7 linked regions of the Homo sapiens genome follow. The protein of the gene in region 7 interacts with the protein of the main gene of each other region in a biochemical or structural test. Each region holds a gene or a part of one and is shown on either strand. Other genes may lie near its edges.

Region 1 (4,827 bases), on a different chromosome or scaffold from region 7:
TTTATTTTTCAAGCGGTTTTCTATTAACTTATGCTCCTTTACTCTCAGAGATTAAACCCTAAACTCTGTCACAGAGATTCTGTAACTCCTATAATATAACAGATCTCACAGAACGCAAGGGAAAAGCCCTCCCAAAGATGTTGGTTAGCCAATACCTCTGAATGACGTTCTACACTTCCAGTGTCTGATCCGGAGTGTTGCTCATTTACATCATCCTCACCGTCTGACCCTGAATCCCGTTCATCCTGTACTGGGGTAGCACCACCATCATCTGATTAAAAACAAAACAAAAACCAACTTATGGTGTAAGATGAATGACATCTACAGTGAAATGAACACACTGAATCAAGAATAACGTAAGTGCAAAAGTTACCACTGAGGAAGCATTAACTAAAGTTGCTAATATTTTGAATAAGGTAATACAATACTCATACAAACACCAACAAGCATAACATGTACTGTGAAATACGTGGCAGCAAAACTACACCATAAAAACAATTTGTAGCTTAAGAAACAACACTAAACACCAAGTCAACAATTTATTTCAACTTCATGTTAAAATTGGGTCTTTCTCTCCATGGCATTTATCACCTTCTAATATACTACCTGAAGTTATTTTGTTTAACGTGGGTCTTCTTCACCTGAAAGAAAATGCCACAAGAATAGGGATTTTGGTTCACTGCTAAATCTCTGGAGCCCAGAACACTGCCTAGTACCTGATATACAGTAAGTATTTGTTTACAAATGAAGAACACAAGGAACTCCAGTCCAAAACTAGTGAAAATCCATTCAAGAAAAGCATATATAAAATGGTAAATACAAACTGTTACCTAACTTTCTTTTATATTTTTGTAGAGATGGGGTCTTGCTATGTTGCCCAGGCTGGTCTCAAACTCCTGGCCTCAAGCAATCCTCCTGCCTTTGCCTCCTAAAGTGCTGGGATTACACCCAGCCCCAATACTTTAAAAAATACAGAGTAAAATCGTATTTTAACCTATATACATGTATTACATATAATTACTTTTTTTTTTTTTGGAGACACAGTTTTGCTCTTTTGGCCCAGGCTGGAGTGCAATGGTGTGATCTCAGCTCACTGCAACCTCCACCCCCCCGGGTTCAACAAGTGATTCTCCTGCCTCAGCCTCCTGAGTAGCTGGGATTACAGGTGCCCGCCACCACGCCTGGCTAATTTTTTGTATTTTTAGTAGAGATGGGCTTCACCACGTTGGCCAGGCTGGTCTCAAACTCCTGACCTCAGGTGTTTGCCACCGTGCTCGGTCTACTTTTTAAAAAGTAACTTAAAAACACAAATGAATGGAAAAAAAACTATTCTGAAAGTATCAGGAAAGTGTTTTTTTGTTTTTGTTTTTGTTTTTGTTTTTTTTGAGACAGAGTCTTGCTCTGTCGCCCAGGCTTGGAGTGCAGTGGTGCAACTTCCGCTCACTGCAACCTCTGCCTCCCGGGCTCAGGGCTCAAAGGATCCTCCCACTTCAGCCTCCTGAGTAACTGGGACTACAGGTGTATGCCACCACACTCGGCTAATTTTTGCATTTTTTTGTAGAGACGAAGTAGGGGGGTGGGGTAGGGGCGTAGGGGGGTGGGGTACGGGCATGGGGGGTGGGGGTGGTGTTGGTCTCACTATGTTGCCCAGGCTGGTCTCGAACTCCTGGGCTCAAGCCATCGGCCGCCTACGCCTCCCAAAGTGCTGGGATTACAGGCATAATCCACCGCACCTGGCTTAGGAAAGTGTTTTTAAGCAGTGCATGCCTGGAAAACGCTTTGCAGTCATTAGAATTCACTGTCCTACGTAAGGAAAAGCAATGAACTCAAAACAGTAAAGGGCTTAACGCTTAAACAATTATTTAAGCACTCAAGTTTTCTTTTTAATTTTCAATTTTTGTGGGTACATAGAGGGTGTATTTATTTATGGTGTATTTAAGAACTTTTGTAACAGAACGCCCCAACAGGACTAGCACACAAAGGGAAAGCAAATGCGACGTGTTTCCCACACCAGGTTCTGCCTCACTTATCCTTAATCTCAGGTGCCAAGCACCGTGCCAGCAGAGTGGGCCCCAGTAACAGCTTACAGAATAAACAAACAGTAAAGAAAGGAGACCAAACTTCGGTGAGGAGGAAGAGGAACGATCTCAAGGTGGAGGAAAGGCACAAAAACCACCAGTAAGTGCCAGAAGCGCATTCCTTACTCTATGCATGCAACTGAAACATGGGTCCTGCACTTACGTCCGGTGTTGCAAGCAAGATTAAACCACTCCTAACTAGCAGTGAAAAGTCTAGGAAGGATCCCCCGCCCCAACGCCCCTTGGATTCTCCAACTACTCAACTACTGAAAACTCTCTTAACAGAAGACACCTCTCCTTCCCTGCACACAATAGGAGCTTAACATATGAAAGTGACTTCCCAATTTCAGCAAAAACCTTCGCCGATTCAGAAGAAAGCTTTCCCACCAGAATCCCCTCTCCAACGTTCTAGCTTCGACGCTTGCAGCTGGTCAGAGGGCTCTTGCCCTCCTCGGGCCGGGTCGCGGGAGGGAAGGTTTCGGGGGGCCTCCTTGCCCCCACCCGCGGGGTGCCAGGCCAAGCCCCGCCGAGTAACTGCTCCGCCTCCCAGCCCGGTCCCCCAGGTCCCTGCCCCACCTGACTGGTCGCCGCTGTAATATTCCGAGTCCATGGCAGGCGGACTCTCAGCGGGGAGTGTCCGCGCCCCGCGCCGCCCCCGTCACCTCCTTCCAGGCGGTGTGACCCCGGATGGCGCGGCTAAGTGTTCAGAGACTGCCGCCCGACCGGAGAACTTAACGGGTGCGGAGGGTAAGAAAGCGGTAGCGGCAAAGGCGAATTCTTTGACCTGGAAGCCCCGGCGGAAAAGGCCGTACCCGGCAGGCTGGCGGGCGGGCAGGCATGCGAGCCGGCGTTCTACTTCCTAGAAGCACCGCTGGGGCCAAAATGGCGTCTGCCCACGACCCTCAAAGGAATGCAGCGCGCAGGCGCCGCAACCCGTCAACCGGCCAATGAGAAGACGCAACAGCAATGACGCCAGGCACGGCCGGAAAGGAGACTCCTGGGAAAATTGAGCTGGAACTCGGGCTTTAGTTAAATACCTTCCTCGGGTGGATCCTGGTCTGACCCCCGTGGTAATAACGTTATCATTGATTCTTTATCATTTCCTAGATTCTGTGTCCGTGCCTTGTTTGAAGAGCTTTTGAGATACTCTTCCGAAAAATGAAGACCTGCTCAAATGACTTTTCCGTCATTCAGCCAAACCACTGTCTTTCCCGTCAGGCCCAGAGGCGCCTGGTTCCCGCCCGCAGTAGGCAAGAAAGCGGGCGTTGCTCACTGGGACTTGTAGTATGACGCCCGCGAGCTGTGATGCGTTACTAACTGGCGCGATCCACAGCGCCTCCTCTCCCGGCGTCTTCCTCTCTTTCATTCTAAACAACGATTTAATTTCCTTGTTAAGAAGCCATTTAGCCAACAGTAAGAAGTACACGTCTTTGCTTCCAGAAGGGTTCCCCTGATGAAACACCGGAGGAAGGTGAAGTTGAACTTTACCTGAGCCCTGTGTTCCTGGAAAACAGCGGTGATTAAGAAACCCCCTCATCTATTTGTGTTTCTGGAACGGCACACTGTAAAGAACCACCCGTCTCCATGTGACTCAGATAAAACGCGTGCAGATGACCCCCTTGTTTGCCTGTGACAAGGCCAGAGACCTTTCCCCTTTATTCTGAGCCTGTTAATAAAGCCAAACAGACCTTCCAAATTCCCGCTGATGATATCGAGTGATTAGTTGAGATTAGAACTCTCCTCCCCCCAACTTGTTAGACACAGAGAACATTTCCTGTTCACCTGACTGAAACTTCTCCTGATTGCAAAACAATCCCAACTGTCAATCATCCCACCTTCCTCCCTATAAAAGTCAAAACTACGCTGCCAAGACACTGATCATATCTGGAGTGCTCTCCCTATTGCAATAGGCTGAGTAAAATCCATTTCCTTACTTGTTCATTTTAGTCTTGGACAGAGAGGGGAACATTCTTGCCTTTGGATCGGAGGAGGGCCAGTAGAGGTTTAAGCAAAGACTCCCCAGGAGGTGTAGACATGTAGAAAAAGAGCCTTTTGTTACTACTGCAGATATCTGACCCTTCGTTAGCCAGTCAGAGTATGCTGGCAGAGCCCAATTATAGGCTCCTGAAGAGGACGTGGGAAGAGAAGAAAGGGGAGAAGTGGTTTCTCTCTGGAAATTCCCATTTTCCTGCAAGAGAGTTCATGGATATTCCTTTCCGAAGTGGTGGAAACAGCATTGAATCCAAATTCCTTCTTTTCAGCTGTGGGAATGACATCTTCTCAGGCAGTCTTGAGAATCAAAAGAACAAAGAATTAGCAATGCCCGAAACCGAATCACTTGATAGAAGATATCAAGGCTCTAAGCCCTCTTCTAAAGAGAAGGTGAGAGTACACCTGTGTAAATGGAGCAGGATTAATAGATCAAAATTCCAGGCGGAGGTTCAGTGGAAGAGAACCTTTTAGTTTCACCAGAGATGTAAGTCCAACAGTCAGGAAAGTGGTTGGGTTATAAACAATGCAATTGCCGGATGAAAATTACTGAATTTTAGCGTTAAAACTAACTGTACTGGTGGTTTGGAGAAAGGATAGAAACACTCTGGACACACAACAATGTTCTTAGCTCTAGAAGCCTGCAAAGAAGCATCAGATCTAATTTTTGTACTCAGAAAGCCAACAATTTAGTGAGACAGGACAAGTCTTTCAAATGAATACAGAGCCTTAGTTAAAGCAGTGTGGTTGTCAGTGTAAA
Region 2 (4,199 bases), on a different chromosome or scaffold from region 7:
TCCACTTTACAGAAGAAAAAAATGAGATTTAGAGATATCAAGTGACTTGCCCAGGGTTTCATAGCTAGTGTGTGTCAAAAGCCAGGGTTCAAACCCAGCCTCGGCTTCAGAGCCCATGGCTAGCCATACATCAGAATGACTCTGTACTCAGTGATAGATAAAGAAAAGGGGTGGGGGCCGGGCATGGTGGCTCATGCTTGCAATCTTAACACTTTGGGAGGCTGAAGTGGGCAGATCACTTGAGCCCAGGAGTTTGAGACCAGCCTGGACAACATAGGGAGACCCCTGTCTTTACAAAAAACTAAAAAATTAGCAGGGCATAGTGATGCATGCCTGTGGTCCCAGCTACTCAGGAGGCTAAAGTGGGAGGATGGCTTGACCCTGGGAAGCCGAGGTTGCAGTGAACTGAGATCACACCACTGCAGTCCAGCCTGGGTGACAGAGCAAGACCTTGTCTGAGAAAAAAACTCAGAGAGAGAGAAAAGGGATGAGGGGGGAGGGAGGGAGGAAAAGAAAAGGGATGAGGGGCAGGGCGCGGTGGCTCACGCCTGTAATCCCAGCACTTTGGGAGGCCGAGGCAGGCGGATCACGAGGTCAGGATATCGAGACCATCCTGGCTAACACGGTGAAACCCCATCTCTACTAAAAATACAAAAAAATTGGCCGGGTGTGGTGGCGGGCCCCTGTAGTCCCAGCTACTCGGGAGGCTGAGGCAGGAGAATGGCGTGAACCCGGGAGGCAGAGTTTGCAGTGAGCCGAGATCGTGCCACTGTACTCCAGCCTGGGCGACAGAGCGAGACTCCGTCTCAAAAAAAAAAAAAAGAAAATAAAGAAAAGGGATGAGGAGTTCCTGGCATTTTTATTTGTCCCCTTTTCTCCCTCTCTAGCTCTATTAAGACAAAGCTTTTCAGATTTCACTTAAACATTAACCATAGTTTAGAAATTATAATTATCACCCTATGACAGAAGGTACCCTTTCTTGGTACATAATTCAAGCTATTAGGAATTTCTTCTGCATTCACTGGGTTTCATGAATGCAAGTGGTGTTTGCTAGGTGCATTCTAAATTTGACAAACATGAGTGTTGTCTTGGCCTGCAGACTTAAAATAGCCACCTGATTATAAAAGAAGTACAGGTCTTAAGTGTATGTCCAAATATGGAACTTGAATGATATGGCAAAATTAGAAATGCAATTTTAGAAGTAATTACACTGTTGTGTAAATGGCCACCTCTTTTGAAGTCTTTGCTACATTGCTTATAAAACACTGAGTTGAACATGAGAAAGCCTTTTGTCTGCAGCTGTACTTTTCAACTGGACATGAACCATGTACTTTTATGGCACGTAGATATTCACATCAAATTTCTGATTTGCAGACCGATTTTATTTTTAGTTAACAAATAAGCTTATCAAATGTGGCTTTTGAACTAAAGCGCTTTTAATTAAGGAGTTATAACAGCATGTTATTTTGAGTAGCTGTTACTAAAATCTGTTGTGATGGAACAATTTGGAGTGAGCATCTGATATCAGAGATAAAGAGAGAAGCATGCAGTGAGCATCTGGAAGTTCTTGTAAAAAAAAAAAACAAATTAAACATTCTCATTTGAATGCATTTAAAATTTTTTTAAATTGCCAATTCCTAAGCTTTTTCTTTGTTAGTTGTAGTTTGCTTTCTCGACTGTATAAAAGAAAAAAGTAATGACTTAACTATCTTCACTCTTAGAATAGAATATGAAATGCTAGCATTTCTCTGCCAGTTCAAGGTATCAGATGTTTTTTATTTAAAGTTGCACTTACCTTTGGGTTCCCCCCCCCTTTTTGTTTGTTTGTTTGTTTTGTTTTGATACAGAGTCTCACTCTGTCACCTAGGCTGCAGTGCAGTGGCACCATCTTGGCTCACTGCAACCTCCGCCTCCCATGTTCAAGAGATTCTTGTGCCTCAGCCTCCTGAGTAGCTGGAATTACAGGTGCCTGCCACCATGCCCGTCTGATTTTTGTATTTTTAGTAGAGATAGGGTTTCGCCATGTTGGCCAGGCTGGTCTCGAACTCCCGACCTCAGGTGATCCGCCCACCTCGGCCTCCCAAAGTGCTGGGATTACAGGCTTGAGCCACCATGCCTGGCCTGGGTTCCTTTACAATTAGCAGAGGTGCTGCTTCTGCTTTCTGAGACTGATTTCTGCTTTGTCAGCTGAACTTTCATTGTTCACTTTACAACCTTCTAGTGGCCCTTCCATTCATTTCCTGCTTGCATCAGAATTCATATCTCACATTTCAGCCTCCACCCAAGGTTAACATGACACATACTTACGTGTGTTGAAACTTGAGTTTATTGTGAGGGTGCCTCCTGGAAATGATAAAGTTGGGGGTAGAGGAAGGCTGGCTGCTTTTTGAAAAATGTTCCCATTTCAGTTAATGGTTGCTTCTTCAAGTGTATCTAGATTTGGGTACCTATAAAATAGAGAATTTTTAATTTAATGTTTTGCAGATTCCTGCTTTTCATTTAGTTACAATTAAAAGTTTAAAAAGTATTATCACAAACGCCTACATACTCTTTGCCTAGATTCACCAGTTAGCATTTTGCCACATTCACATTCTATATATTTTCTGTCCTGAACTATTGAAAATAAGTTACAGTGGCTGGGCATGGTGACTCATGCCTGTAATCCCAGCACTTTGGGAGGCTGAGGCAGGTGGATCACTTGAGCCCAGTCAGAGCAGCCTGGGCAACATGGTGAAACCCCATCTCTACAAAAATTACCTGGGCTTGGTGGTGCATGCTTGTAGCCACAGCTACTCAGGAGGCTGAGGTGGGAGGATCACTTGAGGCCAGAAGACGGAGGCTGCAGTGAGCATAGATTGCACCACTGCCCTCCAAACCTGGGTGAGAGAGCAAGACCCTATCTCCCCTGCCCCCCACCCAAAAAAAGAAAAGAAGTTACAGAAGACATCATGATACTTCATCCCTGAACACTTCATCATTATCTTTGTCTCCTAAGAGCTAGGACATTCTCCTATCTAATGGCAATACCGTTATCACACCTAAGAAAATGAAAATAATTCCATATGTAATATCTAGTTTAAATTGTAATTTTCCCTGTTATACAAAATACATCTTTTCTGCCCATTTTTTAAAATGTGGATTATGGGCCAGGCACAGTGGCTCACACCTGTAATCTCAGCACTTTGGGAGGCTGAGGAGGGCGGGTCACTTGAGGCCAGGTGTTCAAGACCAGCCTGGCCAACATGGTGAAAGTCCATCTCTACTAAAAATACAAAAATTAGCTGGGCCTGGTGGTGCACACTTGTAATCCCAGCTACTCAGGAGGCTGAGGCAGGAGGATCACCTGAGTCCAGGAAGTGGAGGTTGCAGTGAGCTGAGATGGTGCCACTGTACTCCAGTCTGGGCAACAGAGTGAGACTCTGTCTCAAAAAAAAGAAATTATATTATAATCAACTTTCACTTATCAAATTTGGTTTTCATAGCTCTCTAGAACAGTTCTCATCCTGCCTCCATATTGCCTTTTTGGAATAGTCCAGGCCAGTTCTTCTATAGAATGGCACACACCCTGGCTTTAACTGTTTATTTCCTCCTTGTGTTGCTTGACTAGTTCCTTTATCCTTTATTTCTTGTAAACTGAAAATTAGATCTGAATCTTGATTGGATTTAGAGTAAATATGTTTGGCATAGAGACTTCATTGGTAGGTTGACCATATTCCCAGGTTTCTCCAGGATAGCCCTGTGACCTGTTGTGTTGGCATAATTATTATTTATTTTTGCTCTCAGAAGTGTTCTGGTTTGGATGGTACGTTAAGTCACTATTTATAAGTGACGATGTGTACTTCATGTGGACTGCCATCAGGAGGCCCATCCAGTTAGATTGATCCACTATTTATAACATGGTGATTACGTGGTGATTGCCAGATTTCTTCAACGTAAAGGCATCTTTTTCTCTTTGTAGTTAATAAGCAATCTGTGGGATGATAATTTGAGACTAGGAATATCCTGTACCCATGGTTTAAGAGTCCATTGACGACCCTGAACAGAATAAATTCCACATTAGTTGTTACAATGCTAGATTTATTCAGATGGTTAAGTTTTGACAATGAGATAGATTTTTTTTTTTTTTTTTGAGACAGAATCTCACTGTGTCGCCCAGGCTGGAGTGCAGTAGCGCGATGTCGGCTCACTGCAAGCTCCAC
Region 3 (4,199 bases), on a different chromosome or scaffold from region 7:
TTTGGAAAAGAAATGTAAACTTTCATTAGCACCAACCGGGAAATTAGCCAACTTCAATGTATTGGGTTTCTTCCCAATTCTGTGAGAGACATGCAAGCATATGTTAATATTTACATTTAGACAAGAAGATGAAAGCTAAGCACCCATTTTAGTTAGATTAATTGCTAGAGATTTAGAAGCAGATCATTCTTAAGATGTAGACTCTGGCCAGGCATGGTGGCTCACACCTGTAATCCCAGCACTTTGTTTTGGGAGGCCCGAGACTAGCCTGGGCAACAAAGCAAGATCCCATCTCTACAAAAAAGAAAGAAAGAAAAAAAAAGATGTGTACTTTAAAAGCATGCAGGGAGGGAGGAAGGGCAGGAAGGGAGCCAAATCTAGATAATATACTATTAGTAAATGCAACCAAGTATGTCACATGTAGATGATCGTCACTCACGTGTGGTTTCATGCTGTGATGGGTCCACTCTAAAAGATTCAGATCACTATTTCTTTTGGTCTTACTTTCATCCTGTAAATACTGACTAAAAAGCAAAACAAAGAAGGAATACATCAATAAATCCCTAAAGAAATTAACCATTATGGTTACATAGGGCTTTCTGATGTTAAACAGATATGCCATTCTCAAATCCATATTCATTAGCTTTTTAAAAACGTGACTGCTTTCTGGATTTTTTTTTTTTTTTTTTTTTTTTGAGACAGAGTCTCGCTCTGTCGCCCAGGCTGGAGTGCAGTGGCGCGATCTCGGCTCACTGCAACCTCTGCCTCCCGGGTTCACGCCATTCTCCTGACTTAGCCTCCCAAGTAGCTGGGACCACAGGAGCACGCCACCACGCCCTGCTAATTTTTTGTATTTTTCTTAGTAGAGATGGGGTTTCACCGTGTTAGCCAGGATGGTCTCGATCTCCTGAGCCTGTGATCCCGCCTGCCTCAGCCTCCCAAAGTGGCTTTCTGGATTTTTTATTTAATTTGGGGAGGTCTGCTTATAAAAATTGTACATGCTTGTTTTTAAAAGTTGAAATATATATCAGGTTGATAAGCATTAGATGCCCCCACCAAAATTAAGATACAAAAAATAACATAGGCCGGGTGCGGTGGCTCACGCCTGTATATCAACACTTTGGGAGGCCAAGGCGGATGGATCACCTGAGGTCGGGAGTTTGCGACCAGCCTGACCAAAATGGAGAAACCTCATCTCTACTAAAAATACAAAATTAGCCGGGCGTGGTGGCACAAGCCTTTAATACCAGCTACTTGGGAGCTGAGGCAGGAGAATCTCTTGAACCCGGGAGACAGAGGTTGCGGTGAGCCGAGATCACGCCATTGCACTCCAGCCTGGGCAGCAAGAGTGAAACTCCATCTCAAAAAACAAACAAATAAATAAATAACATAAAAAGCCAAAGACCACCGGGCACGGTGGCTCACGCCTGTAATCCCAGCACTTTGGGAGGCTGGGGCGGGCGGATCACCTGAGGTTGGGAGTTCAAGACCAGCATGATCAACATGGAGAAACCCTGTCTCTACTAAAAATTCAAAAATTAGCCGGGCATAGTGACGGAAGCCTGTACTCCCAGCTTCTTGGGAGGCCGAGGAACGAGCATCACTTGAACCCAGGAGGCAGAGGTTGCAGTGAGCTGAGACTGCACCACTGCATGGGGTGACACAATGAGACTCCATCTCAAAAAAAAAAAAAAAAAAAAAAAAGCATGAATGTAATAAAGTATGAATTTTCAAATCCTGGTATAAGCAGCACATCAAACTATACTGTATGATCCCAGTAAGAACATTTCTATACATGGGATAATATATGTATACATATGAATGCAAATGTATGTGCGCACAATTTATACACATCTTACAAAGAAAAGACTAGAAGAGAACCATTTTATAAACAATTGGTGTATCTTATGATTTTTAGAATTTTCTTCTCTATGCTTTTTATTCAAGATAAACAACCATAAATAAAAATAATATTTTATACTAAAACAATATTATTGTTAGCAACAACTTTTCTTCACAAGATTCATTTGTCCTTAGTAAAGTTAAAAGAAGGAACTTCATTGCTTCTAGTGAGCAGAAAAGGAAAAATGGACCCATCTTACTGATGCGTTTTCTCACTCAACTCATGTCACTACTTTACCTAGCTAAGAAGTAGGTATGCTTTAAAGATTGGTTTCTATTATAGCAATTACTATTTGAAACAGTCTCCTCAAACCACACACTTTAAACACTGCCCCTGGGTTCTGAGATAAACCCAACTCTCATGGAAAGCATAAAGATACAAATGGGCTTAAGAATTGAGAGGACTAGCACTCCCCAACTAACAGTTCCTAAGAACATTCAGAATAACGTATCGATGCCAAAGAAATCTAATGCAAGTCACAGGATTCTAATAAGATCTATTTTACATCATAATACATGACAAACTTGTTTCCAGTGATGCTACTAAACACGTTTTCTCAGTTGAAATCAGCTATTATTTTAAAAATAAAATGCATGCTAAGTCCTGAAATAGCCTTAACTACACATTAGACTACCATCCACACAGCTTCCTAGGATGAGATAAAAGAGAGATCACCTCAACAGGGGGTAGTGAGGTTTTCAACCTTTACTTACAGGAGAATCTCACAGATCCTGTGGCCCTTTTGTCCCATAGAATCCAGATATTTAAGACACTTTTTTCTTAGGTCAATCACCTATAATGGAAAAAGATAACATCCAGAAACATCTTAAATGTAAGAGGAGTGAGAATTTTACTTCCAAAAATAAAAGCATCTTTTAAAAAATACATGTACCAATATAAATTTTTTATGTATCTTAGAAATCCATTTATGGGCCATGCATGGTGGCTCACACCTGTAATCCCAGCACTTTGGGAGGCTGAGGCGGGCGGATCATGAGGTCAGGAGTTCGAGACCAGCCTGACCAACATGGCGAAACCCCGTCTCTACTAAAAATACAAAAATTAGTCGGGCATGATGGCACGCGCCTGTAATCCTAGCTGCTCAGGAGGCTGAGGCAGAAGAATCACTTGAACCCGGGAGGCAGAGGTTGCAGTGAGCCGAGATTGTGTCACTGCACTCTAGCCTGGGTGATAGCGAGACTCTGTCTCAAAAAAAAAAAAAAAAAAAAAAAGAAAAAAAAGAAAAACGATATCCACTTATATTGGTACATGTATTTTTTTTTTTTTAGTTAAAAATGTGTCTTACGTATCTTTAGTAAAAAAAGTGTGTTTTTAAGTTAAAAAATTAGTGGTCCTCTCAGAGTGATGAGACTTTTTTTTTTTTTTTTGCTTTCTTTATATCTGTATCTTTCTTTCCTTCTTTTCTTTCTTTCTCTCTCTCTTTTTTTTTTTTTTTTTTTTTGAGACAAGATCTCACTCTGTGACCCAGGCTGGAGTGCAGTGGTGTGATCACGGCTCACTGCAGCCTCGACCTCCTGGGCTCAGGGAATCTTCCACCTCAGCCTCTCACAGGTGTGCACCACCATGCCCACAAAGCTGGGACCACAGGTGTGCACCACCACGCCCAGCAAATTTTTAAATTTGTATAGACAGGGTCTTTCCATGTTGCCCAGGCTGGTCTCAAACTCTTGGGCTCAAGCAACCCCTCCTGCCTCAGCCTCCCAAAGTCTGGGATTATAGGCATGAGCCACCACACCTGGCCTTATAAATGCATTTTTCTGCAATAAACCTGTACTATCTTGTAAACAAAACTAAATAAATATAAATAACCCTTATGCATACTAAGACTCTTTCCTGTTAAAAATGAAAGCTCCTCGGCCAGGTGCGGTGGCTCCCGCCTATAATCCCAGCACTTTGGGAGGCTGAGGTGGCGGATCACGAGGTCAGGAGTTCAAGACGAGCCTGACCAACATGGTAAAACCCCATTTCTACTGAAAATACAAAAATTAGCCAGGTATGGTGGTGGCACGTGCCTGTAATCCCAGCTACTCAGGAGGCTGATGCAGGAGAATTGCTTGAACCCAGGAGGCGGAGGCTGCAGTGAGCCGAGATCGTGCCATTGCACTCCAGCCTGGGAAACAGAGCAAGACTCCATCTCAAAAACATACAAACAAACAAAAAAAAGCTCCTCAAGTACAAGGACTTCGTCCTGTAGCCTTCTAAAAGTTGTTCAACTCAAGAACTAAAAAGGAGGCCAGGTGCGGCATCTCACCCATCATTCTGAGAGGCTGAGGTG
Region 4 (3,387 bases), on a different chromosome or scaffold from region 7:
AAAGCATTTATCCTTCATACCAATTGTAACATCTGACACCATGTAGAAGCTAAAAGTTTAGAGGGAGTGAGGGTTTTCTCAAGACCTTCCTCAAGCATTTTATCTTTAGAAGAGAAACTGATGGGCACCTGATACTCTGTCTAAATACGTTTGTTATATGTGTTTTGCCCTGTGCCATTCATTTGGAACTTTATTGCATTCTTTATTTTAAAAAGCTTGTTTTTACGTAATCATAGAGCTTGCTATTTGTACATCTGTTGAGCAACACTACATAACTGATTTTTAGTTGACTTAGCTATAGCAGTACAATGATTAGTAATGTAAAAATTAACACAGAAATTAACCTAAGGAATGAAGGGTGGGTTTGTCAAAATATCAAGTAAATTTTTGTTTCTAAAGTACATTTAATGTAGATGACCTAAAGAATGCGTTATCCATCCTATATAAAAGAAAGATAAAACACAGGTCACCAATTTTCTCATTTCACCCCATTTACCTTGTATAGAGGATTGTTCATTCCTTTGGGACTAAGTTATAGTTATGGTGAGTGTGTATTTACTGTAGTTTTGCCTGATCTCACTCATTGCACTTCCTGGAGTTAAATTTTCCAACAGCCATGTTGAGGAATAGCACTCTGCATGTTTTTGTTTTGTTTTTCGGGGTTTTTTTTAATTGAAGCCCTAAACCAGGAATTATTTGTGTTCTAACAGGAGGATGAACTTGCTGAAAATAAAACTTTGCTATGTATTTACTCTTTTTTAAAAGACAAAAGCAAAACCAGACTTTCTACGTACTACTCCAAAGACTGTGATTGTGACTATAATACATTTTTGGTAATTTTTTTATACCTAATTTGTATAGGAAGTGCTATTTCTCATAGGCTGTTTCTTGAAATTTTAAGTTTATTGCTTTAAAATGGCAGTGTTTCTCCCACTTTGATATGCTAACATTTAGTAAGCACTGGCTTTATGAAAGCGGCTTTTTATAAGTATACTGCATTTTTTGAGCCTATCATTAATTAGCTTAGTATGAAAGATAAGAAAATCTCCATGTTGTATCCATTTGGCTCAGGAAGATTCTTTGCCTTACCTTTCTTAGAACTCTTTATTGCTTATCAAAAGTTTGAGTACCCGCTTGGTTTTTTTTTGGTAATTAAATATTGTATGATTTATCTGGTTCAAGGAAGATGCACTATTCAGTTATCTATTGAGAAATTATTTTGCAGTGGTTTTAGTGGGTGAAAATGTCCCATCTGCACCAGTACACAGGCAGGCATTATCATTCTTCACCTACTTTTTAAATAGTGGCAACTTGGGATTCATTCTGGTGATTCTGAACCTTGCCTCATAGCTTAAAGTATAAAAAAGATTCAAGAGCAGTGAGGTTTGTTCTTTCCAGTGAATGGTGGACTGAGTGGTGCGAGGTGGAGGGCTAACAAGAGGAAAGAACTACATTCTTCAGAATACAGTGATGAAAATTCATTTTGAAACTCAAATATTTTCATTTTGGATATTCTCCTGTTTTTATTAAACCAGTGATTACACCTGGCCATCCCTCTAAATGTTCTAGGAAGGCATGTCTATTGTGATTTTGATGAAGACAGAATTATTTTTCTCTGTAGAAACACAGATACCACTTTATCAGGGAAGTTAGTCAAATGAAATGGAAATTGGTAAATGGACAAAAGCTAGCTAGTAAAAAGGACGACCCAGCAACATGCTTTAACCCCATTGTATGTTTGTGGAAAGAGCATAGTTTAACATCTTGAGAAATTTGGGACATAAAGTTTTCATGGTAGACAGTTCATGCAGTATATGAATTGCCATAATGGAAATAATCTGATTTTATTTTTACAACTAACATCCATTCCCCTTCATTTAAACACCTTTTGTGTTTTACTTCAGTGAGGAGATTGGAGTCTGAATGGATCTGTTTTCCAAGAGATTCTGAGAAATTTTTGTATTCAGCAGTTGGAAAGCTCTCTATTCTAGTTGATAAAACTTCCCTTTTTTGATGTAGATGCAGATATTCTATACAGTTCTGTTGTCTTTTACTAGGACTGTAAACTTTTGTGATAAAATTCAAATAAGATTTTATTTCTTGGTAATTTTGGCTTTCACAATTTATCTTTAAATCCTTGAGCAATCTGTATACAATTAAGAGATTTCTGACATTTATTCTTACACTAAATGGATCAACTCTAGGATTTAGGCATGTTAACTTCTGTTGTGTTTTGAATCTCTCCAGAGTTGCATGTAGATAGCATTTATTTCTGTGCCCTTAAACCCATTTAGAAAATAACTACAAAGTAAAAATGTAGAGGAAATAGAAATGTATTTTTTCATGAACATTTTGATACAAATTTCATCATTTAATGATTCACCAATTTCTTGCATTAATTTGAATTTAAGCATTTAATTCAAAGAGAGGGGAGCATCCATTATTGATACATGTGGGCTTTTAAAAACTCCATCCTTTATAAATAGTCAAGGTTTGGGCCACACAAAGTATATTTTTATCATGGAAAAATTTCAACTCCTCAAGCCGTAATGTTGAACAGAATTGGAGTATTTTCTTTATAATTTCTTGAACAGGCAAATGAAAGCTTATTATAGAATGCATGTATTTTCTTTTATCTTTGGAACATCAGCACCAGTATATTGCTGGCAGCTATTGTATTAAAAAATAAAGTATATTTTCACTATCATAAAGGATTCTTTTTTCCCCCCTCATGAAAATAAACAACAACTTGGGGTAAAAGTGTTTGAGACTACTATTTTTTTTTCTATGAGTGATTCAGCACATTTAATAGGTTAAAGGAGAAAAACCATAGGATCATTTCAATAGGTACAGAAAATAACTTGATTAAAATATTCATGCTACTCATTCTTAGCAAAATAGGTAACTTTTTTTTTAACCTGATAAAGACTTTTATTGAGAACCTATAGCAAATGAAACAGAAGCGATCTCGTTAAAGTCAAGAATAAGACAAGGTTGCCCTCTATCACAGCTACTATCCAGCTACTTTAACAGCTACTTTATTTAGAGATATCCTAGCCAATGCAGTAACATCAGTGAAAGGAATAAAGAATGGAAAAGAAGCAACAAAATGACTGCCCTTTGCAGGTAATGATGTTGATGGTGTGTATGTGTATAAAATCCAAAATAACTTACAAATACTAAAAATAATTCAGCTGGATTTCTAGTTGCAAGATCGAGGAACAAAATTTAATATAACTACTATATACAAATAGTAAGCACATTGAAAGCCAATAGAGAAATTGGTAACATTGGTTTTTTTCTGGAGGAGAATTGGGTGCCTGAGGTAAAGGGGTGGGAAATTATCAATGTATACTTTTAAGTTTTTAGAAATTGGTAAATATATTA
Region 5 (4,782 bases), on a different chromosome or scaffold from region 7:
AAAAGAACTGTTGGGAAAGAGAAGGTGGAATTATGTAAGCCTGAAACTACTGGGAAATGTGCTGGGGGTCTGGGGTGGGGCAGTCACTAAAGTAGCAAAGAGTGAGAGACAGAAACCAATTCTTAATTTTATGTGAATTCCTGATCCAGCTATGCAGGTGGCTAAAACTATCTGGACTCTACAGTAAAAAAGCCAGTAAATTCTCTCTCTTTGCTTAATCCAGTTAATGTTGGCTCTTCCATTCCTTGCAAAAGGGTTTGAAATAATAGAGTTTTATTCTGTATTTATATCACAAAACATGATTTTTTTTTTTTTTTGAGACGGAATCTTGCTCTGTTGCCCAGGCTGGAGTGCAGTGGCGCGATCTCGGCTCACTGCAAGCTCCGCCTCCCGGGTTCACGGCATTCTCCTGCCTCAGCCTCCCGAGTAGCTGGGACTATAGGCTCCCGCCACCATGCGTGGCTAATTTTTTGTATTTTTAGTAGAGACGGGGTTTCACCGTGTTAGCCAGGATGGTCTCGATCTCCTGACCTCGTGATCCGCTTGCCTCGGCCTCCCAAAGGGCTGGGATTACAGGCGTGAGCCACTGCGCCTGGTCTCTTTAATAGCACTATTGACCCATTCAGTGACCAAATTCCTGGTTTTGAAACTACAGATGCCTAAGCCCACTTCCTCCCCAAAATTTCCACTGAAATCTACAAAAAATAAAGAACTGAAAAATGAGTGAACAGATTGTAGTATTAACATATTCTCTCAATGAAATTCTACTAAGCATTTTAAAAATAATGAATTATTGATATCTGTGGGCCAAGCACTGATTACAGGCATGAGCCATACTGCCCGGCCAAGACATACCTTTTTTTTGTCCACTGCTATTCCCAGATTCTAGAACAATGCCTCGCCCGATAATTATGCACTGAATAAGATGATGTTTACTAATATAACGTTAAGCTCAAAGCAAATAGCAGCAATTTTTTTTATGCAGTACTAAAATTGTATATTGCTTTCTATGAAAATGTTTTAGTTTTATGTGCAAATCTAAATTTACATAATTATCATATAATTAGAATACACATTTATAAAGAGTATTTACATAAACACTTTCTTTCAAGTGTCATAACCTAAATTATAGTTACCTTATTTAAAGCATGTCCAACATGAGGGTCACCGTTTGCATAAGGAGGTCCATCATGAAGGCAAAATTCTGTCTTTACTTTTCTTTCTCTTTGCCATGAATAAAGTTCTGAAAATCCACATTTCTGTTTTAAAAAAAAAAAAGATATCTAAACATCATATAAATACATACTCCTGAGTCTAACCATAAATAACAGCCAACACTTGCTTATTTCCATTCCAATTACATTCCAATCTATTCCATTCCAATCTACTCAACTCTGAAATACAAGGTGAGGTTTCTGAAATGCGTGTCAAAGTACGCATCTCTTAAAATCTTTCAGTAATGTCCCCATACACCTCAGATTGAAGTCTAAACTCTTTATATGATATGCAGCACCCTACAAAGGTTTAGTGCCACTAAGTTCTCGGGCATTCTTTCATCACTCCCCATGCTTCACTCCTCACCCCCGACATGTTGAAGGACCTGCAGATTCCCGACACACATATTCTTGCTATTCTTTGGCGGCAATGCTTGCCATTCCCCAAATCTGGGAACAACATGCATGGCAGTCTAAGTCACTTCCCTTCCCTCACTTGCTGTATGATTTTGTCCAGGTTACTGTGCACTTACGGGCCTGCTTTCTTATCTGAAAAAAAAAAGTGTTAATATCCATCTTACAGGGCTGGTGTGAAGATTAAACGAGGAAACATTTGAAACTGTCACTCTTTCTGGCATACAGAAGGTATTGACTAAAAAACCTTTAAAAAATTAGATGAACTCTTATAACTGTCAGAATATTTAGGCTAAGTATATTTACTTAACCAATATTCCAAGAATATCAGGGATTTTTAAAGACTAGAATTACAGAAGCTAAAGAGGAATCTCTGCTCTTAGAAAGTTCAGACTAGGCTGGGCGTAGTGGCTCAGGCCTGTAATCCCAGCACTTTGGGAGGCCGAGGCGGGAAGATCACTTGAGGTCAGGAGTTAGAGACCACCCTGGCCAACATGGTGAAACTCCATCTCTACTAAAAATATAAAAATTAGCCGGGCGTGGTGGTGCGCACCTGTAATCCCAGCAACTGGGGAGGCTAAGGCAGGAGAATTGCCTGAGCCTGGGAGGCGGAAGTTGTAGTGAGCTGAGATCGCGCCATTGCACTCCAGCCTGGGCGACTTCAAACGAGTCATAATTCCAACTAGGGATCTAAAAGATCCAAGAAGTGGGCTTCAACTTCCCCTTCATTCATCATAATTGAGGTTTTTAAGGTTTTTTTTAAGGACGGGGGGGTGGGGGTGACTAGCCAATATGGTCTCGAACTCTTGGCTCAAGCGATTCTCCCGCCTTGGCCTTTCAAAGTTCTGGGATTACAGGCGTGAGCCACTGCGCCCAGCCTGGGTTTTTATTTACATGTGGACATGTGAATTTACTTTTTACAAGGCATTGGAAAAGTGCCCAAAGTCTATCTGTTTTGCCTACGGTAGACATGGGACATACGTGCGATACATGCTGGTAACTGGGCATCGCTAGTGACCCCTTAATGTCCCGCTCCAGAACCTGGTACAAAGGAGGGGCTCATCTAGAGATTTCTTCACTTAGGTTTTCAGCCCACAAAATCTGTGCGAAGCAGACGAATTCCACCAATCTGGTCACACCCCCGCCCACCCGCACCGGCGTGGAGCCTAGAGGTGTGGCGCCTGCGAGCGCCCGGTGCCCGCGGCCGGATCGGGCCTCTCTGGAGGCCCCGCGCCGAGGCGGGGCCCGTACCTGCTGGATCTCCAGCTCCGTGTCCGGCTGCTGGCGGCCCAGCAGCTTCATGGGGAAGCTCGTCTGCGGCAGCAGCACCGTGTCCCGGTATCTGCCACTATTCGAGTTCGGCTGGTGGTTACTGGCCCCGGAGACCGACCGCACCAGAAGCCTCTTCGTCGCCCCTTGCCATCCCGGGCTGCAGGGAAGGCGGGGCGTCCCCCACAAACTTCGGGCAGTGGCCAGGGCGGCCGCGCCCGGCCCGCGAGGGCGCAGCCCCCAACGCATGGTCCGGCAACCCCTGAGAGCGGGGTCCTCCGCTCCCGCCCCAGCTTGAAGGGGCAGGACCCCAGGAAACCAAGGGGAGCCGAGTAAGAGGGCGCACGCGCTCCGGGAGCGGAAGGGGCGGGGAGGGAGCGGCGGGTAGTGGGGGCGGGGCGGTGGGCACCGCCTTCCCGGAGTCCGCGGAGGCTGAGCCACCTCCGGGTCCTCCCTGCAGCCGCCGGGGGGCGGGCTCAGATTCACGGGGGCGGGGAAAGGTGGGGCTCATAGTCCAATCGCTGTGCCCTGCTTTTTAAATATATATATATATATATTTTTTTTTTTTTACTTTAACACAACATAGCTATGATTGTATCACTTTAACATGTAGCCAATAAAAAGTAAGATATTTTACATATTCTCTTCATACGAAGCCTTTGAAATTTGACATGTACTTTGCACATACTGCACATCTCAATCTGGGCTAAACTCATGGCAAGGCCTCAACAGGCACACTTGGGTAATGACTACGACTGTGGGCAGCACAAGTTCAGTGAAAATATTGTAAAATAATAAAATTTCAGCAAATCGAGTTTTAAAGATCTAATTGGCTATTATTAAATATTCCTAAACCTTTCTACAAAATAGAAAGGATCTCTGATGAGCTGTGGGGGCAGGGTGAGGTTTATAGGCAGAAAAGGTTGAAGAAGGCAGAAACAGGGAACGAAAAGCAGACGCCATTTGGCTTAATGGATTTGGCTATCATCTCTCCTGATTTCCTGGAACGCAGACCTTACAAGTAAACAGCCTAGTGCAGGAGCTCAGTCCAAATCAATGACTTCCCATAGATTTTAACAATATTATAAAACAATCTAACCTTTTTTTAAGATTCTCTGAAATCCCTGTTATATCCCACTCATAGAATAGTATGGTATATATAGCAACTTCTGCTCCTGTTTCTGACAGATTCTGCTCTATTTGGTTGTCCAGTTCATAATAGTTCACAATTGTTACCATTTCATTGTTGAGTATACAACTTGGGAATAGCCTTCCTAATCATAAAACACAACATCCAGAACATTTGGTTCACATAAATAAGAAGGACAGATTTTCTACAAGTATGAAAACATATATATACCAAAAAAAGATACCGGAAAGTGAGAAACCAAGTGACAAACAGAAAGCACTCAATGTCAGCCTTTCACCAATCAATGACTCCAGCTCTGTACCTGAATTAATTCACTTAATCTTCAAAACCAGATGAGGTGAAGACACAGCATACCAAAAAAACCTGTGAGATAGGAACTATGAGTATTTCCATTTCACAGCTAAGGAAACTGAGGCACATAGAATTATGTAACTTGCTCAAGATGATACAACTAAGTAGCACAGCTGGAATTCAAACCCAGGCAGTTAGATTCCAGTGTGTGTGCATAGCCACCATGTTATGTTGTCTTTCCTACACTATACTGTGGAAGAAAACATTTGCTACACATTAAAAAATAATAATACACAAAATGCATAAAGAGCTGCTACAGATCAAAAAAACAAATGTAAACAACCCAATTTAAAAAAAAAAAAGGATAAAAGAAGCTGGACACAGTAGCTCATGCCTATAATCCCAGCACCTTAGGAGGCTGAAGTGGAAATATCACTTGAGCCC
Region 6 (4,199 bases), on a different chromosome or scaffold from region 7:
GCAAAGCTGTGCTGTTAGAAAGGAGGAAAGGGGGCCTAGACGGAAACTGTAGTACTGACATCCTCCCAACTCCCTCCTGCCCCTTGTAATTATGGTGGCAATCTCTGAGACTTCCCTGGCTCCTTAACAAGCAGACCAAAAACTTCCTTGAGGAGCCCAGTAGAGCAGGGCAGGGAGATGAGGATCAAGTCTGCCATACTAACAGTATCAGGCTTTCTCTGCACACTCACTGCCCAAGTCTCCTACCAACCTGGCCACTTGGGATGGGTTCTCCTGCCGGGCCTTCCATGCTGTCCCTTACCTGCCTCTCCAGCTCTTCTGCAAAGGCATCAAGGTCCAGGTCTTTCAGTCGCTCTGGGTTTTCCAAGATTTCTTCAAGGGCTCCTGCAGGATTGGCATCCTCGGCTGATTCATCGTATTCCAGGGCATCCACTGCCATCTTCCTAGCCCACTCATAAGTCTCAGGGTGGACACGGGAACCATCAAGGACTTCAATATATGAGTCAGTGCTGGAGGAAAGGCAGAAAAGGAACAGGATATAGAACGATAAGCTTCTAGTAACAACCCAAATGTCCACCAATGGGGAACTGGTTAAATAAATTAGGGCACCTCCATACAATGGAATACTATACAGCCATTAACAAGAATGAGGTAGATCTATGTGTGCTGACATGGAAAGATGGCCACAATATATTGATACGTGAAAAATGCACTGCAAAAACACTATGAACCATATGATCCCATTTTTGTAGTAAATGGGTAGTTAGTAAATGCATAGCAAAAATAAAATTTAGAAAAACTGTAGTATACATAAAATTGTTATGGTAGTTATCTCTGGGGGGTGGGATTATGGGGGACTTCCACTTTCTGCATAATATTTCTATATGTTGAATTTTATATGATGAACTTATATGAGTCTCATAATAAGATAAATCAAGAAAGGGGAAAAAAACCTTTGAAAATTTGCTGATAGCTATTTTCCCCCATAAAGCCTTCCCAGGCTGGTCTTGCCCGTGCACTCACATGGACCTATGTTATTCGTGGAGTGTTACAGCAAAGCTGAGTGGAAAATGAAGTTTTAGAACTTGAAGCCTATTTCCCCACTGATTTCCATTACTGAATGAGGAGCTATGTGCCCGTGGAAAAGATCCTCCAAAGACTGAGTTGATAACTTCTGGAGAGGAAGAGGTCAATAGTGAAGTCCAAAGTCCAAGTGAATAGAACTTTCTCTTAATAACATCATCTCAAAACATACCAAATCTCTCTCCCCCTTCCTTATCTCTTTATACCCCCAAACTCCTTTTTCATTGCCCCCGCTATTCCCACCCTTATCTGGCCACAACAAACCATAATAATAAAAAAGCAAGTTTGTGTTTACTGAACAAAATCTTGTGTTTTCCATGCTTAATTTATAAGCTAAGCTGGTACTTTTTATGTTTCTCTCACACGAAAAATGTTTCACATGATTGAACCGATCTTTTCCATAGGTCAGGGGCTCTTGACTGAATAAAGTTCCTTACCTTTTCTTTAAAACATTTCCTAAGTTAAAATGGCTTGTGGCCCTTTGATAGCCCTAACCCCTGAAACCCGAAAACAAAGCCCACAAGGGAATTCCTCCTGCCCCATCCAGGCAGAGGGCATCACCTGTCCCCCAGGGAGGCCGTGTCGATCTTGAGGAAGCCAGCACAATTCATGAAGACTTTGGGACCCATGTGGCACATGGTGACCAGCTGGGTCCGGCTCTCGAGCCGGGTGTTGTTCTGCTTCAGGATCTGGGGGAGAGAGCTGGACTGAGCCAGGGCAGTAAGCAGGCCCCACCTCCCCAGACTGTTCCAGTCTCTATTAAACCCTCATAACAAAAACTCTGTCCCACCCAGTATCTAGTTGAGCACTACAGCATGCTATCGACCACTCAAAATTAAAAAAAAAAAAAAAAAAGTTTTGCTTTAAATGGGAAAATAATAAACAAATAAATGATGTTATACCTACACCAAAGACCATATACAACTAATGTATGGCTTATAAGTTACAAGTTAACACTAGTTGGCCGGGCGCAGTGGCTCATGCCTGTAATCCCAGCACTTTGGGAGGCTGAGGCGGGTGGATCACCTGGGGTCAGGAGTTTGAGACCAGTCTGGCCAACATGGTGAAACCCCGTCTCTACTAAAAATACAAAAAATTAGCTGGGTGTGGTGGTGCAAGCAGCAGTGAAGGGCACAGCTTTGGCCAACTGGGTCTGAAGTCAGACTCTTTTGACTCTCACTAGCTGAGTGATTTTGGACAAGTCACTGACCTTGGTCCTCCCAATCTGTCAAATTATACTGACAAAGTATATATTCATATTCAATGAAATGGCAAGTTTTAAAATTTCTGAATTCACTCCAATCCTACCTTCAGGAGGTGGGTCCCTTTCCGAGGTCCCAGGCCACAAACATACTGGATCAAGGCCTGGCTGTAAGGGTGGGCAATGGCACGGTTGACATCGACCCCGACCTCATTGACTCGGTTGATAAATTCACAGTACAAGGCGTTGAGCAGCTCCTCTTTCACCACATGCTCCTGTGGACATTCAGCAGGCAGGAGTAAGGTTACTCTGCCTTTCCCTTCACCCGAGCCTGCCTGTCAAATCCTACTCACCTGCAAGGGGTGAAACTTGAGACACAGGATGTCTTCATCGGAACTGCACACCTGGGCAAATTCAATCAGAGGGTCCTGGATGCGCCGGGCCAGGGAGACGGCCTGTCTCAGCACTGGAGGATAATCCCGGAACTCTGCCTAGAGTCAAACGAGGGTCAGCAGGGCCTTAAAATCCCCTTAGCTACAACATCAAGAGGAAATCCAAACCATTCTGGTTTAAATCATTTTCTCTGCTTCTCTGGGATCTTTTTTCCTGAGACCGATTTAATTTCTGGGACTCCCAATCTGAACCGTAACTGCAAAACGGAGAACTTCTGCATGGATAAGTACACAGGTACAGTCCTGTGCCCCTGATAACTTTTGTTTCCCAATTTAATCTCTTTGGGATTAATAGCACTTGCCTGGGCAGGCCCTAAGGGTGAGGCTCCAGCATTACCTCTGACTTCTTGCTGTTCATATAGAGAATGGCCAACTCGTTGTCAACCAGCTCTACCCCAATAGATGACAGCTGCTGGCCCTGGTCCAGCTCATGTACAATGCGCTTCACATCTTCAATCAACATCTGGGCGTCCCTGGTGGGATGAGTGTTGGTCAATGAATATGTTTTCTTAGGGATGGACAGTCTCATGACTGCCTTGGGGGTGAAGAGGTAGGGGAGGAAAGGGCTTTGAAGAAAATGAGGTCAAACATCCCCAGGGACACTCCCTGCACAAGCACAAGCCCCATCTGTTATGGGCATATGCCAGACTCAATAATAAGGGATGAGTTGGGTCACGGCCTTAAACCAGGTGTGGTCTAATCCCTACCTACCTGTTCTCTCCTGCAACTGTCACTACATGAGGCTTCTTATTCAGGAGAAATTTCTTTAGCGTTTCAATGTCTTGAGCCTGGATTGAAAGAAAATTGAAGCTGAATGGCTCTGAGGATGTAAAGATTTCAGGAAATTCTGTCTCCCTATGTTGGAGATCTTGTAAGAACTGGAAGTCTTCAGAAGATATCTGGTCCAAGGTGCTACCAAGGAACTATTCCCACCTCTTCCTGAAAGTTGGCCAACCCTGCCTCTGCTTAATAATTCCACTGACTAGAACTGCGCTCCAGTGGTACCAGGTGCCACTGGCTAGGTCCCAAGGATGAAGTTAGGAAACCGTTCTTTTTTATTGTAAACCAAAATCTAATACTTAGCCATTGGTTCTAGTTTTGATGAAGCAAAACAAAGAACTAGTAGCTGCCCTCTTTTGGGTGAGGGCCCTTTGAAAAGGTCAACATGGTTAAGTATGATTTCCTTCATCTTAAAGATGTCCAGTTTCTTATGATTTACTTTCCACTGCCTCACACTCCTGCATGTCCTCCTTTTGTGGCTATTTCATTTGTGGTGTGACTTTTGCTAAAATGTGAGTAGTTAGGACTATTAGATATTCTGATCTCCATTTCAAGATTTTAAGGGCTGGGTGCAGTGGCTCACACCTGTAATCCCAGCACTTTGGGAGGCTGAGGCAGATGGATCACTTGAGTCTAGGAGTTTGACACCTGCCTAGGCAACACGGTGAAACCGTGTCTCTACA
Region 7 (4,199 bases):
TATGCCCTACTTCTGGATATTTGGGGGCGGGGATTGTGGGCATGTGTATGTTCAAACAAAGAATGCGTTTTCTACAGCATGTATTTTCCTCCTAAAAACCCAATTTTTAAATATTTCTATTAAATATTAAAAGTAAAAGCTGTGAAATGAGATTTTGATTCACCAGAGGTCTCTAGGACATTACCATTCCTTATATTGGGAACAGCCCAGTAATTCCATGTGTACAATATGTGGAGGCAGAGGCTGAGAACTGTAACTGGTCTTAAGTGTGTGTGCTCAGTGTTGTGTGTCTTACCTCTAGGACACATCCATATTTGTGTTTCTTCTGACCACGCGGGTGGGCGGCTTAGGTGTCAACCTGACGGGGGCAAACAGAGTTGTCATCTATGACCCAGACTGGAACCCAAGCACGGACACGCAGGTTTGTTTTTATTTTTTTTTTAAAAGAATGTATTAGTAGAAATATAGTTTCATGGTTAGCGCTTTTGACTGTCCTTTGATGTTCTGGTTGGCTTCAGCATACGTTTCACATTTTGATTGTCTCCTGTTCTTCAACGTGAAAGAAGACACCCTTCAGAGTCAAATGGACAGGAACCATCTTCAGCAGTTTATCCATAGCATTCATTCCTAGAGTTGGGGTAAAAAGAACATAGGCAAAGTTACAAACATTTTTTCAAGTAGAGATGTCTTTTCAACTGGCTGTTCATCTTCCTGAGTAGGCCTTAGGTGTACTTGACGTCATGAGTCAAAATTCTAACTCTGGGAGTGACAGGTAGTGACCAGCTAGCTTTGTTTCTTATAGTCAGTGCTTGTCATTGGGAAGGATTCTCGTTGAGAGGTCTCTCTCTCTCTGTTGCAGGCCCGGGAGCGAGCATGGAGAATAGGCCAGAAGAAGCAAGTGACTGTGTACAGGCTCCTGACTGCGGGCACCATTGAAGAAAAGATCTACCACCGGTCAGTGCACACAGTGGCCACTCTTGGCTGTGCGTTCCCAGAGTCTTGAGCAGGGAATTTTTCCAAAGTGTTGTTTTTAAAAGTCTTAACATCTTAGAATAATAGTTGCTATAACTTAAGGCTTTGGTTTTTGTTTTGTATTTTTTCTTTCCCTTTAAAATATGCTTAGATGTCTTACTGTGAGTTGTCAAAAAATGTCTTTGAACCTGATAATTTTTGTACCTTATTCTACCTCAAGAATCACATACATGTAAACTTCATATTGTTATTTGAAAGGAATATTTCTGCCTGCTATGGTGTGTTGCCTTCAGAAAAATTTTAAAAAATGACAAGGTTGAATGTTACCATATTGGTGTTTACATACCACATTATGCAGGTAGGATCAGTGTGGGTGTTCTGGCAGTCTTTGACTCTGATGCCCCTTACAAAGAAGTCGACAGGATGGCTGTTTCGTCCTCTGTCTTTCCATAATGACTAGGGGATTTTAGACAGTGGTAACTTCAACAGTAGAATCAAGACATTGCCAGCTTCTCCCACTCCCCCACCACAGACTTTATCCTTGAGCCATAGCCCAGCTTTTATAGGAAGCTCTGTGCCCTTTACCACATGCTGGGCCATTCCTGGAACATTACATCTTCCTCGAGGGAGTGTTGTGTGAGGGTGGAGGACGAGTTGGATCCTGTGAGAAGAGAGCTTCCTTTTATAGATTCATGCTTTAGCTGGGAGAATAAATGACAGGGAGGGACAGGGTGGCTGGTGGAGGTGCCTGTTCCAGAGTGGCAGTGGTGTGGGGCTTCAGCAGAGTGTGGACCTGCAGGTGGGAGCAGGGAGAGAGAGGTCAGAGTGGAGACATTGCAAAGCCCAGGTAAGAGAGTTTGCTGAGCCCTATGATAGGAAGGTTCTAGGCAGGGCAGGACCCTTGGTATTCAAGTCAAGGAGGCTAAGAGAGACTATGAGTCACATGATGGCATGTGAAAAGGTGTTTCTTGAAATGTGTTAGATCTTGGAGGTTGAAAAAGCTCATTCGGTGTAAATAATAAGGTATTATTTCTAATTTAAATTCTGCAAGACCTGGGAGATTAACTGATGTATTATATATTTCCTGAATTGTAATTTTCCAAGGCTGAAAGTTTGGGGGATTATTTAGCCATTCATGCAGCAGCTGTTATCATCTCTCTCTTATATTGCTTTATAACTTGAATTTTTAGGTAGAGCTACACATTGTTTTATACCAGCTTATCTTTTATTTTTTTAGACAAATCTTCAAGCAGTTTTTGACAAATAGAGTGCTAAAAGACCCAAAACAAAGGCGGTTTTTCAAATCCAATGATCTCTATGAGCTATTTACTCTGACTAGTCCTGATGCATCCCAGAGCACTGAAACAAGTGCAATTTTTGCAGGTATTACATAAAATCATTTAATTTAAAGTAATCAATTGCACAAGATGATACAATATAGTATTAGTGGTGTTTTTCCTCTTTACAGGAACTGGATCAGATGTTCAGACACCCAAATGCCATCTAAAAAGAAGGATTCAACCAGCCTTTGGAGCAGACCATGATGTTCCAAAACGCAAGAAGTTCCCTGCTTCTAACATATCTGTAAATGATGCCACATCATCTGAAGAGAAATCTGAGGCTAAAGGAGCTGAAGTAAATGCAGTAACTTCTAATCGAAGTGATCCTTTGAAAGATGACCCTCACATGAGTAGTAATGTAACTAGCAATGATAGGCTTGGAGAAGAGACAAATGCAGTATCTGGACCAGAAGAGTTGTCAGTGATTAGTGGAAATGGGGAATGTTCAAATTCTTCAGGAACAGGCAAAACTTCTATGCCATCTGGTGATGAAAGCATTGATGAAAAGTTAGGTCTTTCTTACAAAAGAGAAAGACCCAGCCAGGCTCAAACAGAAGCTTTTTGGGAGAATAAACAAATGGAAAATAATTTTTATAAGCACAAGTCAAAAACAAAACATCATAGTGTGGCAGAAGAAGAGACCCTGGAGAAACATCTGAGACCAAAGCAAAAGCCTAAGAACTCTAAGCATTGCAGAGACGCCAAGTTTGAAGGAACTCGAATTCCACACCTGGTGAAGAAAAGGCGTTACCAGAAGCAAGACAGTGAAAACAAGAGTGAGGCCAAGGAACAGAGCAATGACGATTATGTTTTGGAAAAGCTTTTCAAAAAATCAGGTAATCCATTTGATACGTTTGCCACAGGGATGCTAGGATTAGAAAATGAGTAGGCTGTTTCTAGCAGTAGCAGTCTTTAACTGATGGTGCATAGAGGGCTGTCAGCCATTAGTGTTTTTCTTCAAAAATTTAGATTTGAAATATATTGACATTTTAAAAATCGTATTTACACCTCTTTTCTGAAGACCTAGAATAATTTGAAACTTTGGAAAACAATAGTACTTATGGCCACTCATGGGAGGTGTGCAATTCTTAAATCGATGTGTACTACCTGAACATTAGTAGGCAGTTACTTTACATGCTATATGCTACATTAATCTGATTTTCCAACCACAGGAGATTAAAGTAACATCATAAGGGAGAGGGACAAGCGTGTGGCTAGAGACAGACATTCTAGAAGTATGAAAGCTGATAGCTTATGTCAAGGGAGAAAAGTTAGGAGATGTAGACTCAACAATTGCTCAAGACCATGGAGTATATAGATAGCCCTGCTTAGTGATCCCTTAGCAGTCACTGTGTTCACAATGTGATGGCCTTGAGTTACCAAAGATTGCTGCTTATGGTACTCAGTTTAAGAAGGCAGGTTTATGTGTAGCATTTCAGAAAGACTTTTATTTAGCATGGTTAATTTTTTTGTTAATTTCATATTTTGAAGTAATTTCAAACTTAAATCAGTTGGGTCTCAAAAAAAAATCAGTTGGAATAATACGAAGAACTCTCCTATATCCTTTATCTAAGTTATTAACATTTTTCAGCTTTTGCTTTATCATTCACACACACACCCATCTATGCATACATTTTTTTTTTGGTAGGAATGCCACAGAGGTGATACCGTATCTTACTCAGTGCATCTATCAGGAGACACATGCTGGTTTGACCTATTACAAGTTGATTTTTAAGATCACTTGGTTAAGGTGGAGTCTGCCAGGTTTCTCAATGCTAAGGTTAATATTTTTACCTTTGTAATTAATTTGTGCTTTCAAGGAATATGCTTTGAGACTGTGTAAATATCCTGTTTCTCATCAAACTTTTATCCACTAGTTTTAATATC

Evidence for each region.
Region 1: the proteins of ERCC6 (region 7) and IWS1 form a complex in vitro, tested with the Homo sapiens proteins (one large-scale study listed by BioGRID).
Region 2: the proteins of ERCC6 (region 7) and ARPC1A form a complex in vitro, tested with the Homo sapiens proteins (one large-scale study listed by BioGRID).
Region 3: the proteins of ERCC6 (region 7) and SENP2 form a complex in vitro, tested with the Homo sapiens proteins (one large-scale study listed by BioGRID).
Region 4: the proteins of ERCC6 (region 7) and CLIC4 form a complex in vitro, tested with the Homo sapiens proteins (one large-scale study listed by BioGRID).
Region 5: the proteins of ERCC6 (region 7) and IARS2 form a complex in vitro, tested with the Homo sapiens proteins (one large-scale study listed by BioGRID).
Region 6: the proteins of ERCC6 (region 7) and SUPT6H form a complex in vitro, tested with the Homo sapiens proteins (one large-scale study listed by BioGRID).

What each region holds. Positions count from the first base shown.
Region 1 is NC_000002.12:127,523,521-127,528,347, forward strand, and holds the start of IWS1 (protein IWS1 homolog), read right to left. Parts: upstream 2,970-4,827; 5' UTR 2,689-2,969; coding exon 2,655-2,688; intron 272-2,654; coding exon 156-271; intron 1-155.
Region 2 is NC_000007.14:99,328,493-99,332,691, forward strand, and holds part of ARPC1A (actin-related protein 2/3 complex subunit 1A), read left to right. Parts: intron 1-4,199. UniProt on the Homo sapiens protein: Probably functions as a component of the Arp2/3 complex which is involved in regulation of actin polymerization and together with an activating nucleation-promoting factor (NPF) mediates the formation of branched actin networks.
Region 3 is NC_000003.12:185,620,323-185,624,521, reverse strand, and holds part of SENP2 (sentrin-specific protease 2), read right to left. Parts: intron 2,697-4,199; coding exon 2,617-2,696; intron 525-2,616; coding exon 440-524; intron 1-439. UniProt on the Homo sapiens protein: Protease that catalyzes two essential functions in the SUMO pathway.
Region 4 is NC_000001.11:24,841,562-24,844,948, forward strand, and holds the end of CLIC4 (chloride intracellular channel protein 4), read left to right. Parts: 3' UTR 1-2,760; downstream 2,761-3,387. UniProt on the Homo sapiens protein: In the soluble state, catalyzes glutaredoxin-like thiol disulfide exchange reactions with reduced glutathione as electron donor. Can insert into membranes and form voltage-dependent multi-ion conductive channels.
Region 5 is NC_000001.11:220,092,581-220,097,362, reverse strand, and holds the start of IARS2 (isoleucine--tRNA ligase, mitochondrial precursor), read right to left. Parts: upstream 3,232-4,782; 5' UTR 3,147-3,231; coding exon 2,880-3,146; intron 1,260-2,879; coding exon 1,137-1,259; intron 1-1,136.
Region 6 is NC_000017.11:28,685,664-28,689,862, reverse strand, and holds part of SUPT6H (transcription elongation factor SPT6), read right to left. Parts: intron 3,525-4,199; coding exon 3,448-3,524; intron 3,210-3,447; coding exon 3,074-3,209; intron 2,776-3,073; coding exon 2,638-2,775; intron 2,560-2,637; coding exon 2,392-2,559; intron 1,773-2,391; coding exon 1,645-1,772; intron 1,175-1,644; coding exon of another isoform or gene 1,129-1,174; exon of another isoform or gene 1,024-1,128; intron 510-1,023; coding exon 302-509; intron 1-301.
Region 7 is NC_000010.11:49,469,131-49,473,329, reverse strand, and holds part of ERCC6 (DNA excision repair protein ERCC-6), read left to right. Parts: intron 1-301; coding exon 302-421; intron 422-859; coding exon 860-954; intron 955-2,209; coding exon 2,210-2,355; intron 2,356-2,440; coding exon 2,441-3,148; intron 3,149-4,199. UniProt on the Homo sapiens protein: Involved in repair of DNA damage following UV irradiation, acting either in the absence of ERCC6 or synergistically with ERCC6. Involved in the regulation of gene expression.